Regions from separate parts of the Homo sapiens genome. Here regions 1 and 2 are each linked to region 3. Evidence: fine-mapped expression QTL. A gene starts in region 3. Each other region holds a variant in brackets. All regions are shown on one strand. Distances are between the middles of the regions. Region 1 overlaps FGF2 (fibroblast growth factor 2). Region 2 overlaps AFG2A (AAA ATPase AFG2A). Region 3 holds the start of NUDT6 (nudix hydrolase 6).

Region 1 (5,229 bases), 63 kb before region 3:
GCCTGGTGTTGCTGTGCCAGGAGTCAGTGTGGGGTCCTGAAATCCAGATTACTGAGGTGTTAGTACTGTAATTATTCTTACCAGAAAATGCCCCAGCCAAAAGTGGATGGAATTTTCCCACCTGAATTACAATACCTCCACAAACCAGGCCAAGAAGTGTCCTCAGTGGCAGAGCATTTCTAGCCTTTCCGTGATGCTCAGATAGTCAGATAATGTCTGTAATCCCTAATAGCTACAGAACAGATGAGGGAAGGTGTCCTCTCTACCTGTCAACTTGTGACTATTTACTGATGAGTACTGGGACTTTGAACTCCCCTTTTCTCTCTATCTCTGAAGCTTATCTTTGCTGCTGTGCAGTTCTTTGCCCCTGTATTGCGCCTGGAGCTTCTGGAATGCCACAAGATGCTAAATAGTTCCTACCTTTTCCTTTTCTTACCATCAATCTGACTTAATTATCTGATGGTGTCACTATAGAAATAAAAGCCATTGGCATTCTTAAACAAGCAGCTGTGCTGTTAGAAGAATCAGGAGTCACCTGATATTTACAGCTATTTGGGCATTGTGTTACAGTTGCTTGTATTGGTAGCTCAGCCAGCCCAAACATATCTCTTTTAGAACATGAGGTAATAAAGCCAGTACATAAGATATTGGAGGAAATTGTAAGTTTGTATGGATTGAAATTGTTTCTAACAGCCTACCTTTGGCATAAATCAGCTGTACATCTTTAAATTTTTTAAATTACATAAGTTAAATGGTATGGCTTAGAAGTAAAATTTTGGCAAGAGATTTAGTATTTCAGACATTGTATGTTGCACTTATTTTTAATTAAATTGTTTTAATTATTTTGTCATCATCTACAATCTTAAGTTTCATAATAAAAACCATTTTTACTTTATGGCTATAAGAGTTGATACACAGAAAGATTTAATGGACTCGTAAAGCCATGTCCTGATTGGGTAGTAATGAAGGAATGCACAGATTTCTAAGCTAGCTCCCTTCCTTTCTTTCTTTAATTTTTCTTTCTTTCATATTATGCCCAATTTTAACCTTGTTTGCTAGCTGAGGAGTTGCTAAGAATTTTAATGAACTATCTGGGTGTCTAATGTTCTTATTTATAAACTTTAATTAGCCAGTTGAATTGTGAAGAGAATGGAATGTGTGGTTTTGGGCTTCTGGGATGATATGCAAAATAAAATAGTAAAAAAAGAAAGTTTACTGAGAGGGGCAATATGAAATGTGTTAGTCATATTTGTATCTGATCTTTGTAATTTATCTGATTATTACCATGGGTACTCCATATACATGTATGAAGATGTAAAGTTTTTCATTTTCAGCAAATGAGTTCCTTTTTTTTTTTCCTTTTACTTTGTTTTCTTTTTGGAGACAGAGTCTCGATCTGTCACCCAGGCTGGAGTGCAGTGGTCTGGTCTCGGCTCACTGCAACTTCCGCCTCCTGGGTTCAAGTGATTCTCCTGCCTCAGCCTCCTGAGTAGCTGGGACTACAGGTGCATGCCATCATGCCTGGCTAGTTTTTTGTATTTTAATAGAGATGGGGTTTCATCGTGTTGCCCAGGCTGGTCTTGAACTCCTGAGCTCAGGCAATCTGCCTGCCTTGTCCTCCCAAAGTGCTAGGGTTACAGACGTGAGCCACCGTGCCTGGCCAAATTAGTTCCTTTTGTTACCTAGCCTCCTTTGTCAGTTATCTATGCATTAAACGGTTTTCAGTGCCTGGTCTTCAGCATTGGATTGGATGATGGCTGATGGAAGAAAAAAAAACAGTGGTTATACCTTGGAATTTAGTTTTCAGTTACTGGTGAATTTTAGATCCAAGGAGACTACTAAACCTGGCTCAGTTATTTTTGGACACCAAAACATAATTTTATTGGAAAGCGAACACACTCTATCAACCAATTTTAAATAAAAAAGGTCTTTTGAATCAGCCAGAAGTTAAAATGTGAGCATTGTGTTCTGAGCTGAAGATGTCAGGTTATGTGAGTACTTGTTCTCTATAGACTAATATAGTGAGCCTTGAAATATAGTATTAGACAACTGCTTTCTGATTATCTTAGTACCCTAAATTGAGAGTTTCAGTTTGCTTGGGTTTCAAATTACTTAAATGAGAAATAATATTAACACTGGCCCAACTAATGAAAAATTATGCAATTGCCACTAAGCCCCATGAGGGTGGAGACTTTGTAGGTCTTTGTCACTGTTGTATTTCTAGATCCTAGAATAGTTTCCTGACACATAAGAGACACCAATATCAATTACTGAATGAATGAATAGGATAATAGATTGAGAAATTATATAAGGTCTTAGTCTTTTTTGCAGTATTTCCCTTGGGAAATAAAATAAAACTAAAAATTTATTTATTCTGTAGGTAAAGAACTGGGCTCGCTATGGTAAGACATTATATAAGCATAAATAATATACTTTAAAAAGATGCCTCAGCCACATTCATACTTGCCCTCTTCTAGATATTCTCATCTTTGATAAAATACAAGGATTCCTAAAAACATAATTTCCTGAATCTCAAAACAAAGCAGGTAGGGTGCAAAGCCAACATATTTGAGTGCTATATACTAAAAGTTTATATATGGGTGTGTACATATGTATA[T/TAC]ACACACACACACACACACACACAAAAGATCTATAACAACTGTTTCCCATCGTACAGGTGAGAAGGTAAGCTCAGTTACTTGGAGATGAAGGCTGATTTTGAATCCAGGTCTGACTCCAAAATTCATGCATTTGACACCATGTTATTTACTCTGAGTACTACAGTTTAACATCTGCGGTTTACTTCACAAACTTCTTGAAGGAGTTGTTCGCATTTACTGTTCCCAAATTGTTACTGAGGTTAATCTAGTGAATACTTTTCAGTTTTATATTACCTGTCATTTTTGGTACCATTTGATACTGAAGGTCTTCTTGAAGGTCCCACTTGAGATCCTATCTGCATTTGGTTTCTAACTCCTGGTTTCCTACTTCTGACCACTCTTGTGGGGTTTCATTAAATTTGTAAACTATTTGGTTGGGGTGGAAATGACATCTTACCTATATCGAGTTTTCCCATCTGTAAACATGCATAGCTCCCCTTTTAAGTCTTTTAAAAATGATTTTCAATAAAGTTTTAAAATTTTCTCCATAAAAGTCCTAGATACTATTTGTTATCATCATAAATATTTTTTTAATAACTAACAGTTCTAATAATGTGTTGTAGGTGTAAATAAACCGAATTTTTATATATTCTTGTATCAAGCAAGTTGCTGAATTATTTTCAATAGTTCATCTGTATGTTCTCCTAACTTTAAAAGAAACTTTTTATTTTGGAATAATTTTAGATCTACAGAAGATTTACAAAGACTTTACAAAGTTCCTCTATACCCTTCACCTAGATTTCCCTAAGGTTAACTTTTTTTTTTTTTTTTTTTTTTTTTGAGACAAGATCCTGCTCTGTTGCCTAGGCTGAAGAGCAGTGGCCCAATCATGGTTCACTGCAACCTCCACCCACCCAGGCTCCAGTGATTCTTGTGCCTCAGCCTCCCAAGTAGCTGGGATTACAGGCATATGCCACCACGCCTGGCTATTTTTTTGTATTTTTTGTAGAGACAGGTTCTTGCCATGTTGACCAGGCTGGTCTCGAATTCCTGGCTTCAAGCAATCCACCCACCTTGGCCTCCCGAAGTGCTAGGCTACAGGCGTGAGCCACTGCACCCAGCCTTACTTCTTACATATCTGTGGCACCTTTGTCAAAACTAAGAAATTGATACTGGTTACAACGCTGGTTCTAAAGTATAGATTTATTTGGATTTTGCCGCTTTTTCCACTAATGTCCTTTTTCTGTTCCGAGATCCAATCCAGAATATCATGGTGCATTTAGTCCCTTGATTTTTTAATGGAGAAAATGGTACTGTCTGCAAATAATAACTGTTAGATACCTTAGTTTCCAAGTATTGTGTGTGTGTAGGTATTAGGTGTGCATATACGTATCTTCCTGCACTAGCTCGTACTGACCACTCCATCCAGGCTCTTCTTGCTCTACATCCTATACTTCTCCCATAAATGTTGGTGCTTCCTTGGATTATGTCCTTTGCCCTTTAATCTGCGCTGGCTACACACTTTTGAGAAGATCGCAGCCACTTTACATCTCCCTGTAGGGATTAGGCACAGCCTGCACTCCCAAGGCAGCCACTGTTAGCTCTGATTATTACCTCTTTATTTCTAATAGATTCCTTTTTTGAACTCTGGATTCATATAGCTGACTGCTTTCTGGACATCTCTGTCTGAATTTTCCACAGGCATTGCAATTTCACTGTGTCTGAAGGGAACATATATCATTGTCTTCTCTTGCCAACTTTCCCCTCCTGCTGCTCCAACCACCTCCAAGTTATCCAAGACAGAAAAACCTGGGACCTATTTCTGAACTATTTGCTTTATTCTTTCCTCCCTTCTTCTCTCCTTCCTTTTTGCCCTCTTTTTACCTCCCTCCCTTCCTTCTCCTCATAGCCCCTGTGAATCCTGCTTCCTTCATGTCTCCCGTATTTGTTACCTTCTGTCCACTCCCACAGTTGGTGCTTCCTTGGATTCTGTCCTTTGTCCCCACTGTTTCATTAAAAGCTCTCATTCTTTCATGCTATTACACACTACCAAACTCCTTAACATAGTATTCAGAGCCTCTGGTATCTCCAGCCTCATTTAGTCCCCCATACCCCCTTCCACAACACACACATACATACCCCTACACTCCATGCTACCTAATTGCTGGAAGTTCCTTAGATGTGCTAGGCTTTCTCTCCCTTTCTCCTTTGGAAGTTATATAAGATGCTTTCTTTTTGTTCCCGTTCTTTCTTTTCCTTACTATTGCTAATTCTTTCAGTCTCCAATCATTTGTCACTGCTTCCAGGAAACCTCTCTGTTCAGGCTGGGTTAGATGTATTCTCTGAGTGCTCTCAAAGTAGCCTGTGTATATTTTTCTCATGGCACTTACAGTATTGAGCTTTAGTTATCCGTGTACCAGTCCTCATCGCCTCAACCATGCTGTATGTTCCTTAAGGCTAAAGACCAATGTTATATTTTCCTTTGGGCTTCCTATTGCTTAGCACAGTACCTGGCACATAGCTGTTACCCATAAATGTTAATTGAATTAATGAGTAAATGTATTCACCATTTATGGAAACACTGACTTGTCTGTTTCCAAAAACCATATTCTTTCACCAGGGACAGATCTCT
Region 2 (5,229 bases), 55 kb after region 3:
TAACTAATGAGGATGTCGAGTAGTAAATCGACCCAATTTATCATCGTCTTAGTCCAGTTTCTGCTGCTATAACAAAATACCACATACTTGGTAATTTACAAAGAACAGAAATTTATTTCTCACAGTTCTGGAGGCTGGAAAGTCCAAGATCAAGGTGCTGGCAGGTTTGGGCTCAGTCTCTTTGCATCCAAGATGGTGCCTTGAATGCCATATTCTCTAAAGGAGAGGAACGTTGTGTCCTCACATAGCAGAAGGGTAAGAAAAAGGGCAAGCCTTTCTTATAGCTGTATTAATCCATTCATGAGGCTGGAGACACCTCTCATTAGGCCTCACCTCCCATCAGTGTGTCATTAGGGATTAAGTTTTAACATGAGTTTTGGAGGAGACAAAAACATTCATACCATAGCAAACATAAACATGTCAAGAATTGTAAAGGGTCTGAGATTTTACTCTACTTTTACTCTATTCTAACAAATTTTGTGAGTGGCTGCAGAAGAGTCAAAGGAAAGAATATTGCAGCAACATAATTAGCTAGAGTAGCAGCATTTGCACCAGTTCCTGAGCCTCAGTTTTCACGGAGTGATACAGAGGGCTACCTGACACCTGAGCCTTTATAGGCTTGCATCACAGTAGGGGAGCCTTGAATTGTAGAACCTGAATCTTTTATAATGGACAGTAAGCATGTCTATCCTTTGCTTTGGAGAGAGACACTTTCTTTTCCTGCATACCAACATCCTTTAAAAGATAGTCTTGAACAGAGGCAGTCAGTGATTTTACTCTCAAGCAGAAGTGCAAGAGATGTGAAGAACCATCTTTCAGCATTTTGGAAGGCAGATAAAGCAAGTGGGTATTTGTAAGATGTCCTAAAGAAGTGACTTGCTGTCTTTAGGAAGCAGGGGATCTATTTTTGGTGTATGTTTGTACTATTCACTGCTTTTTCTTGGTAGAGAAAGATACTCAACCCTCTGTTTTGTGGAGTTTTGTATCTTCTTTTTATTAATGCTTCTGTTTATATATAAAAGTTCAAATAAGTGAAAACAAAATGATGGAGTGGTATCATTTTAATTTAGTAAAAATGTATTGAGGTATAGTGTTTTGAACAAGAAAGGTTAAAAAATCATGGGAGCTAGCTGGTGTTCCAGGATAACTTTAGATATTCAGACTGGATTTCTGAGAGATCTCTGAGATTAAACTCCTTCAAAGTGGAATTTTATTAAACACTCTTAACACAAAGAGCATATAGTGACTTACTGTCTTCTAGACTAAAGGTCGTCACAGATCAAAGGGCTCTAAATCTCACAGCCTGATGGAGAGGACATTCACTCTTGTCAATGTTTAAATTTCAAGCAAATAGCAAAGACAAAGAACTTAGTATCTAACTTCTCAAGTCAGCATGGTATCTTTGAATTTATTTTGGATCTCTCTAAATTTGACTTTGTTGACTATCTTCCTGGCTGCTTTAGTACCTTTTATTCTACGTCATCCTAGTTTTTCTTTCCCTTTTAAAACATCGTTTCTTTTTATGCTATTCAATTGATGGGCTTTCCTAAGATTGAGCCTTCTACACTTATTCCTCCATCCCTGACCCCTCACTAGCCTCCCCTTTTAGATCTCTCCCTTGCTATAATATCAAATCTTACATGTATGCACATCACTCTGAAGTTTGCTTCGCTCTTGTATTTCAAAATCACATTTCCAACTGCCACCTGAATGTTTGCTTGCAGGTGTTTTCCCAGTACCTTAAAACTTTGTAATTCTAGTTTGAATGTATTTACCAAAAGGGCAGGGGCAAAAGCATGTTTTAATTTTAATATTTTACTCTTTTAAAAGAAGTTCCCCAAACAAATTATTTTGATAAATCTTTTTGGCTTTTTTTATGGATGTTGTTTTGTAAATTCTATTTTATATTTGTAAATAATGCTTTCTCATATTAAGTATTTGTCATATTTTCATTGCCAAAACTAAGTGCTTGGATTTTTACATTTATTCTTCACATTCTTCCACCTCTCTTCCAACCTCTCATCCCCTCCCCTACAAGGACAAAATGTTTTAAATGCTGTAATCTTGCATGGGGTTTGGGTTTTTTAATATTTTTATTGGTGATAATTCTGTCACAGGATCCTTAGGGTGTCACTTTTCCAGCCAGAAACCTCTGTGGCCGGTGGCACCTCTGCCCGAGTTATATCCTCGGGCCCACTGGGCTTGTTCTGCCCACTTGGTCCAGCAGGCTGTACTTGGCTTGTGCTATTGACCTGGATCCTACACCTGCCAAGGGTGAGCCAGGCGCAGAGCAGTGAAGGGG[G/A]TGTGAGTGAGCCCGAGGTCCGGCCACTGCACACAGCCAGGCATGCTGGCTGCAGTGGAGTGGACAGCCCCAGGTGCAGGCACAGGCACCGGCTCTGTGTGAGGATGTGGCTGGACCAGGCATACCACAAGTGTTTTCCACCGTGGGCACCAGGTAACGTGGTGGTACCTGGAAGCTTGGAGATGTTGGAAACAGCAGAGCCCCAAAGAGAGTGTCACAGCTCTGGTATCACAGCTCTGATCACAGCCCTTGCATCTGGGCTCCCCAGAGGGCCACAGCTCCTCTTCTTCTCATTGCCCAAAATGTGGTGACCAGTGGGCGTGTTTCAGTCCTGTTTGTGTTACAGCTCTTTCAGTCCTGCCATTTGGAAGGTCCTGAGTTCTTGTGCAGCCTTTAGGAAGAATGAGGTATGTGGACAGCTGGAGGGTGAGCAAGGCAGAGAGGAGCTTCATTGAGCAAGAGAACAGCTCTCAGGAGACCTGAAGTGGGTAGGTCCTTCTGCCATCAGGTCGTCCTGATGAGCGTCCAGCTCTCAGCAGAGAGGATACCTGGAGGGGGTAGCTGCTGTCCACAGGCAGGCCATCCTCACAAATGTCTAGCTTTCCGCAGAGAGGACACCTGGAGTGGGTAGCTCCTTTCTGCAGGTAGGTCATCCTGATGAGTGTCCTGCTGTCAGTGGAGAGGAGACCCAGAGTGGGTAGCTTCTTTCTGTAGGCAGGTTGTCCCAGTGCATGTCCAGCTCTCAGTGGAGAGGAGACCAGAATGGGTAGCTCCTATCTGGCATCCCAGCTAGTGTCCAGTTCTCAGCGGAGAGGAGACCCAGAGTGAGTAGCTCCTGTCCTCAAGCTGGTCAGCCTGATGAGTGTCCAGCTCTCAGCAGAGAGGAGACCTGGAGTGGGTGGCTCCTTTCTGCAGGCAGGTTGCCCCAACGAGTGTCTACTTCTCAGCGGAGAGGAGACCCGGAGTGGGTAGCTCCTTTCCATAGGCAGGGTGTCCCAGTGAATGTCCTGCTCTTAGTGGTGAGGAGACCCAGGGTGGGTAGCTCCTTCTCACAGCTGGTAGTCCTGACATCCCAGTGAGTCTGGCTGAGTCGGGTTTTTATGGGCTTCAGAAGGGAGGAAGTGCATGCTGATTGGTCCATGGGTGGCCATGGGCAGGCCCAGAAAAAGCACCATAAGTTCTTGGTCTCAGCTGCAGACTCTACCCAGCTCTGACAGCCTGCCCTCCATGCTTCAGGCTGTCCCTGGCTTAAAGGTGGGGCTTCACCAGGGACTCACTCCTTTCTGCCCAGGAGCCTCTCTGCCTCCTGCTGCCATCAATCATGTCGTCCATGGTGCTGGGGCTGTTCATGCTGAGGGGCGCTTGCAGGACTGCGCCAAGCCACCCTCAGCCTCCCTCACATACTCATTGGCACCCAAAGTCTGGAGGGGACCAAGGTGGAAGGGAGCTGGACTGTCAGTGCCACCTTGAGCACATGAACACCTAGGTGGGTCATGACAGTGGCTTGGCTCAGCCTTAACTTTGGTCTGAAATCAGAGCAGGCAAAAAGTTTTTCTGGGACTGGGGAGAGGCCAGGCAGTAGAAGCAGGCACTTCGGAGCCTGTTGGGGCAGGGGGTGCTTCCTGGGTTCTCGAGAGTGGAGGGATACCTGGGTCCACAGCCATGGCTGGGCAGCTGCAGCTGTGCCTGGGTGAGTGGGGCTCACACCCCACCAACTTGGAAAAGAGCAGGGCTCCTGCCTGTTCCCAGCTCCCACTGGCTTCGTGGAGTATGCAGCCCTGGCCACGCCTCCCCCACTGCAGCCAGTGTCTTCACTGTTGCCACTCCAGATGGGCCACCGGAGCCATCAATTCAGTCTGTATTTATGAAGGAAAAGACAAATCTTGTGTTACTTTCCTCTCTTTATAGGTCTCTGTGCCTTGCGGAGAATCCTGAAAAAACAGCCTAACCTCCCTGATGTCAAGGTGGCTGGACTGGTGAAGATTACTCTGAAGGATTTCTTGCAGGCAATGAATGATATCAGACCCAGTGCCATGAGGGAAATAGCAATTGATGTCCCAAATGTAAGTCATTTATGTCCCACACTAGCTACACTGTTTGAATTAAACTCTGAAAAAAATTTAGAGTTCAGGGAGACTGACTTCCTAGGCTAAACTTTAAAAAAATATTTTTCTTAATTGAAAGTTTTATTGAGATAGCTGTAAATTCAGTGCAGTTATACGAAGTAATGTAGGGAGATTCTGTGTATCCTATACCCAGTTTCCTCCAGTGGCAACATTTTGCAAAACTGAAGTACAGGCTGGGTGCAGTGGCTCATGGCTGCAATCCCAGCACTTTGGGAGGCTGAGGTGGGCGGATCACTTGAGCCCAGGAGTTTGAGACCAGCCTGGTTAACATGGTAAAACCCCATCTCTACAAAAAGTACAAATTAGTTGAGTGTGGTGGTGTACACCTGTAGTCCCAGCTACAGCTGAGGTGGGAGGATCATCTGAGCCCTGGGGAATGTTGAGGCTGCAGTGAGCCATGGTTATGCCACTGCACTTCAGCCTGGGTGACAGAGCGAGACCCTGTCTCAAAAACAAAAAACAAAACACCCAAAAAACTATATTACAATACTAAAACCAGGATACCCCTATTGATACAATCCATTGATCTTACTCATATTTTTTCAGTTTTACTTGTGTGTATGTGTTTATTTAGTTTTATACAATTTTATCTCATGAAAAGGTTTGCATATTCATCACAGATACTAAGTAATTCCATCACCACAAAGATCCCTCATGTTGTCTTTTATAATCACACCCACCTCATTCCTCCCCTCATTTCTAAATTTTTATTTCAGAACCTTTATATAAATGGAATCATACTGTATACAACCTTTTGGAATTAGCTTTTTTCACATATGAGTAAGATCTTTTGTCTTTCTG
Region 3 (5,229 bases):
GTTTACAAATTAGTTTCATCTTTGATCAACGCATCTATCCAGTAATTAGAGCTGGCGTTATTCACAAAAAGCAAGCTAAGAAGCAAATATTTTTGGTGGCAATTTGCCTAATGCCTGGCTAAGCACATGGCAGAACCTGGTACTTAAACCCAGAATGTGCACCTCCAAATCGCACAGCTTTCTGCTTTGTCATGCTGACTGGGGTAGTGCTTTGATCACCTGTTTGGTCATTGATAAGTATCAGTGGGTACAACACCTGTGTCTACCCACACACTGGAAGATAAAACGATTGATTCTCCTATTAGTGACACTGTTGCAGTATAAGCGGGCTTGTCAGCAATTACTAGCAAGTAGGAGAGAAAATAATGTGAAGAGGTAAGAAGTCTGGGAATGAGGATGAGTAAACATTGAAATAACTAGCTCAATTATATTTACAGATATGCTTCTTGCCATATTGCTCAATAGGATAAAGATTATTTTGAGTTTCCAGTGTGAGAGATTTTTCCATAGTTGAATTTGCATGCTATGCCTTCAATTAGATTATAAAACCCTCAGAGGCCGTTTGAAAAACTGCTGCACCACTAAATCGACTTCTTCCAAAGTGAAGGCTCCTCCATCCAAGCTTTCTTATCATTGGGCTCAAGGTTGAAAGCCAGTAAAAAGTTTTCTTATTGAAGACTGAAACCACCCACCACCGTCCCTGGTTAATCATAAAAGAAGCGTTATTCTAAAAAACTCCAGTTCTCGCTGAGACAGCTGTTGACCCAATTTGTATACAAATGTGACACTCTGAACCTCTCTGGTTTAGTATTTGATAGCCCAACAGGGTGACTATATTCAATAAAGATTCAGGCTGGGTGCAGTGGCTCCTGCCTGTAATCCCAGCACTTTGAGGGGCCAAGGCGGGAGAATCAGTTGAGCCCGGGAGACTGAGACCAGCCTGGGCAACACAGTGAGACACCGTTTCTAGAAAAAATAGAAAAAAGCCAGATGCGCGCCTGTAGTCCTAGCTACCCAGGAGGCTGAGGTGGGAGGATTGCTTGAGCTCAGGGGTTGGAGGCTGCAGTGAACCCTGATCCTACCACTGCACTCTAGCCTGGGAGACAGAATGATACCCTCTCTCAAAAAAAAAAAAAAAAAAAAAAACAAACTGTACATTTAAAAATAACTAAGAGTAACTGGATTATGGTTGAATGCTTGTGGTGATGAGTATCTCATTTACCCTGATGTAATTATTACACATTTATACCTCTATCAAAATAGCTCATATACCCCATAAACATACACACCTACTATGGACCCACAAAAATTAAAAATAAAAAAGAAAAGCCTCTTTGGTCCACTCAGTCCACCACCCGTATTAGAATGTAAGAGTTTTTTTCCTTGGGAAAAGTGTCCGACAGAACCAAGGCTCGGTAAAGGATACTAATAATGTAATAATATAATATTAACAAACATCTACTGAGCTTTAAATACGTGGCAGGCACTGTGCTGTGCACTTTATGTGCATTATCCAAATTAACTCTCAGTAATTCCAGGAGTTCTTATCACCGGGGTCTGTGGAAGAGGAAATGGTGGTTTACGGCAATTTCCGAATGTCGCACAGTAGAAAGTGGACCAGCAACCAGGGTTGCAGATCCCAAAGTCCGGGATCTTCACCATTTCACCCAACCGCCTTAGAGACCTCCCAGCAAAAGGTCTAAGCACGAATGCTCCAGAAAACAGGTCCAGGTCACGCGTGCCTTCTCCCTTTCCCTCTGGGCTCGACAGTGGTGCACAGAGCGACTAGGGAGTGGGGGCCGCGGTTATTTCATTAGAAAAGCTCTGGAGCCCCGGGAGCCCTTCGTCCCAGGCGCACTTGCCCTGCAAGCCCTTCTGGAAGGCGGCAGCGTCCAGGCGGTCCAGCGCATCGAGCCGCGCCAGGCGCACCGAGATGCCCCCGAATCTGTCCAGCTCGCCCTGCAGATCGCACGCTCCAACTGGCGGATTCCGCACGTAACCCTGTGCGCCCGAGGCCCAGCGGTAACCCGCCGAAGGCCCGGGGCCGTAGGTTCGGGCAAGCATCGCGCGCCAGCGGCCCCAGCTCAGTGGCTGCCGCATCTCCACGCCGCTTAATTCGTCCGTTGCCCAAATGACCCCTCCGCGCTCCAGAGCGGAGATCGCGGCCGTACATTTTAGAAGAGTGCCATCAATACCCTCAGAGTTGAGCTGGGGTTACCACTCTGCAGAGCTATGCCAAGGAGACCGCGAAGTGGTCCACCAGCCCTTCTCAGCAATTTGCCCCGCTCCAGTTAAGCGGGGAAAACCTCCTCCCCCACCGCCACTCACTTATTTTGTTTGGTAGTTTAATTCAACAGACGTTGGTTTAGGGATGGGGAAGCCGGGAGGAGATGCAAAAACGTCCTGTTTTTCAGGAATTTACAATCTAAGTGGCAGTTCCGTTCCTGGAACCTATCTTCTTTCACAGATGCCGTTACAGCTGTTTCAAAGACTGCTGGTTTTGAAAACGCTCAGTCCCTCCCACCACGCTGTGCACTGCTGCGCTCCACTCAGGGGATTACGGCGCAGGGGCGGACCCTCGCTGACTTCTGCCCCGGAAGTTTTTCTCTCAGTTGAAGCGCGCACATTGAGTCGGCTTTTCTACTGCTTCGGCTAGGGTACCTTGTGACCATGTCTTCCAAGAAGAATAGAAAGCGGTTGAACCAAAGCGCGGAAAATGGTTCGTCCTTGCCCTCTGCTGCTTCCTCTTGTGCGGAGGCACGGGCTCCTTCTGCTGGATCAGACTTCGCGGCAACCTCCGGGACTCTGACGGTGACCAACTTATTAGAAAAGGGTAAAGAATTCCGGGTGGGAGACTAGAGGCCGAGGGGGCGCAACCTGAGGGGCGGGAGACTCAGTGATACTGACTTGGGGTGCAGAGACTTTTGAAAGTTGGGCGTGGCATGGGTCTGAGAGCGGCACAGAAGCGTGTAAGACTTCTGTATGTAAGAAGCATGCAAACGTAGCCGCGCCTGCACTGGAGAAGTTAGGCTGAAATGGTTTATCCGTGTCCAAGGTTTCTCTTTTGTAAATTATTTTGAATTTTTAAGTTGCACTTGAAACGCTTTGTCTCATTTAACATTAACGACACATTTAATTGCAAAATTGTTCATAACTAGCGAACATGGGATACTTATCCTAAAAAACTAAATAACCAATTCAGTAAAAATGTGGATCACTCTGCCTTTAGGAGTGATGATAGCATTTTCTTCCAGTACTACGCAGGTTATGATATTTAATAACTGCTAGTAACTGCACACTAGTGTTAGCAGTATATATAGCTCATCTAATTTCTACAGAAGCCGTGACCGATGGGTATAGTAATGACAGTTTTATAGAGGGAGGAAAGTTAACGTGATTCCATTCAGGCTACACAGGTGCTAAGTGGCAGAGCCGATATTTGAGTCCAGATGTGTTTGACTTAAAAGCCATTCCTAGATGACAGCTCCTTTGATTTGGGAGAACGTATTTATACTGAAAAGTCTTATAAATTGAATTAAAAATTGAAAATTTATATTTGATGTGTAATAGCTTTGAAAAATGGACCAGACTAGTGGCAAAAACTTTTATGTCTAATCAGACCTTAAAGACAATTTAGAGTTCACATGGTATTTTCACTCTGCCTTAGGTATCAGAGGACAACTTGTTCTGTCCTGAAGGTTCAACTTGTTTTTGAACTAGATCCTTCCCATTGACATGTAAACATGCTCATTTCTCTTCCATCTTAAATCAGAACAAAAGCTCCACATTTTCTTCCTGCAACCGTCTCTCTATCCATTGCCAAGCTTCTTAAATGGAGTGGTCTCTGCCGCCTCACCACTTACATACTCTCCCTAGCCTATTCCTCTTTGACTTCCACCCCATCATTCCATGGAAACTGTTCCTGGTGTGGTCTCCGAGCATCTCCGTGTTGATAAACCTTACGTGACCACAGCAACTTTTGGTATTGTTGACCATTCCCTCCTTCTCGAAACACTTAACTTCTTATGTGTTGTCAAACTTGCCTGGTTTTCTTCATCTTTGTTGATGTTTCATCATTTTTCTTTGCAGGCTCGTCCTCTTCCCTTGACCATTAAATGTTGAAGTTCGTCAATTCTTAGTCCAAAACCTTTTTTTTCCTCTCAATAAATCCTGTCTCCTTGGCAAGTTCATCCAGTGCCCAGAGTTTCCCATCTATAGTCTCTTCAGTGTCAGATTTATATTTGTAAATCTTTTGTTTTTGCGCCTTGATGTGGTTGCCTTTTAGCCAAATGCTTCTCAAGCTCTCTGTGGTGAAGACTTTAAAATTTATAATAGGTCACAGATCAGCACTTTTCTAAAATACAGTAAAAATGATTTTCTAGAAAAATAAGGAAAAATTTTTATTAAACAGATGTGAAATTACTCTGTAAATTTCAATAAAAGCTTCTATATACTTATTCTCCTGTTTTGTACTTGTCATGAAGCAGTAACAAATCGTTGTGGGTCATATTTTGAATAGCACTGTACAATAACTCTTCTCATGAGTGTCCCAAAGATACTTCAGGACTAACTTCATGAGCCCGTTATTTCCTCCAACAAAATAAACTTCAACTCTGTTCAGTTTTTCCCGCTGCAAAATTCAGAAACCTAAGAGTCATCCATGACTCTCCCCCCCATATCTCACATACCTAGTCCACCACTAAATCATGTTTATTACCTAAATATTTTACATATTCCTCTTCTGCATGCCATTCCCACTGTTTCTACCTTAATTTCAGACACCATCATCTCTCACCTGGACTGCTACAACAGCCTTTTGACTGATTTTCCAGCTTCCAATTTTGCCCCTTATTCCTTTTCCATTCTGCAGCCAGAATGATCTTGTAAGATGAAGATCTTGTCATGACATTGCTTTTCATCCCTTTCTGGGCTCCCACTGCTGTCAGAGTAATGACCAGCATCTTGATGCAGCCTATTGCACTATTGTCCTGGGTGGTCTTGACCTTCTTTACATGGCTTCCCTATGTCTCCACCACTCTGCCTATACTCTCCTGAGGATGCGCCATACCCCCTTCTGCCCAGGAACTTTGTACATGCTGTCCTCTTTGCTGAGAATTATCTTTTTCTTCTCCTCATTTAGTTAGTTCCTACTCTTCTTTCAGACCTGATCTTAACATCACTTCCTTTGAGAAACATTCTCTTATTTGAAATTAGGTCAGATCCCACATG

What was found. PIP is the estimated chance that this variant, and not a neighbour inherited with it, causes the effect.
Region 1: its variant is the best candidate, but not a certain one, in a credible set for the expression of NUDT6 in regulatory T cells (Bossini-Castillo 2019, PIP 0.73).
Region 2: its variant is the best candidate, but not a certain one, in a credible set for the expression of NUDT6 in whole blood (INTERVAL, PIP 0.54).

Annotation. Positions count from the first base shown.
Region 1 is chr4:122,857,036-122,862,264 of GRCh38, forward strand. The region is part of intron 1 of FGF2 (fibroblast growth factor 2); the gene reads left to right. Among named protein-coding and RNA genes, the nearest start is that of FGF2, 33 kb to the left of the region's middle. The variant T/TAC (reference allele first, on the strand shown) is at 2,618.
Region 2 is chr4:122,975,022-122,980,250 of GRCh38, forward strand. AFG2A (AAA ATPase AFG2A) reads left to right here. Exons shown (of 16, transcript NM_145207.3): 10 at 4,211-4,365. Among named protein-coding and RNA genes, the nearest start is that of AFG2A, 55 kb to the left of the region's middle. The variant G/A (reference allele first, on the strand shown) is at 2,303.
Region 3 is chr4:122,920,473-122,925,701 of GRCh38, forward strand. It overlaps NUDT6 (nudix hydrolase 6), which reads right to left and starts at 2,125. Exons shown (of 5, transcript NM_007083.5): 1 at 1,863-2,125. The coding sequence starts at 2,100. AFG2A (AAA ATPase AFG2A) reads left to right here and starts at 2,606. Exons shown (of 16, transcript NM_145207.3): 1 at 2,606-2,833. The coding sequence starts at 2,671. RefSeq lists enhancers at 2,269-2,805, 2,598-2,967.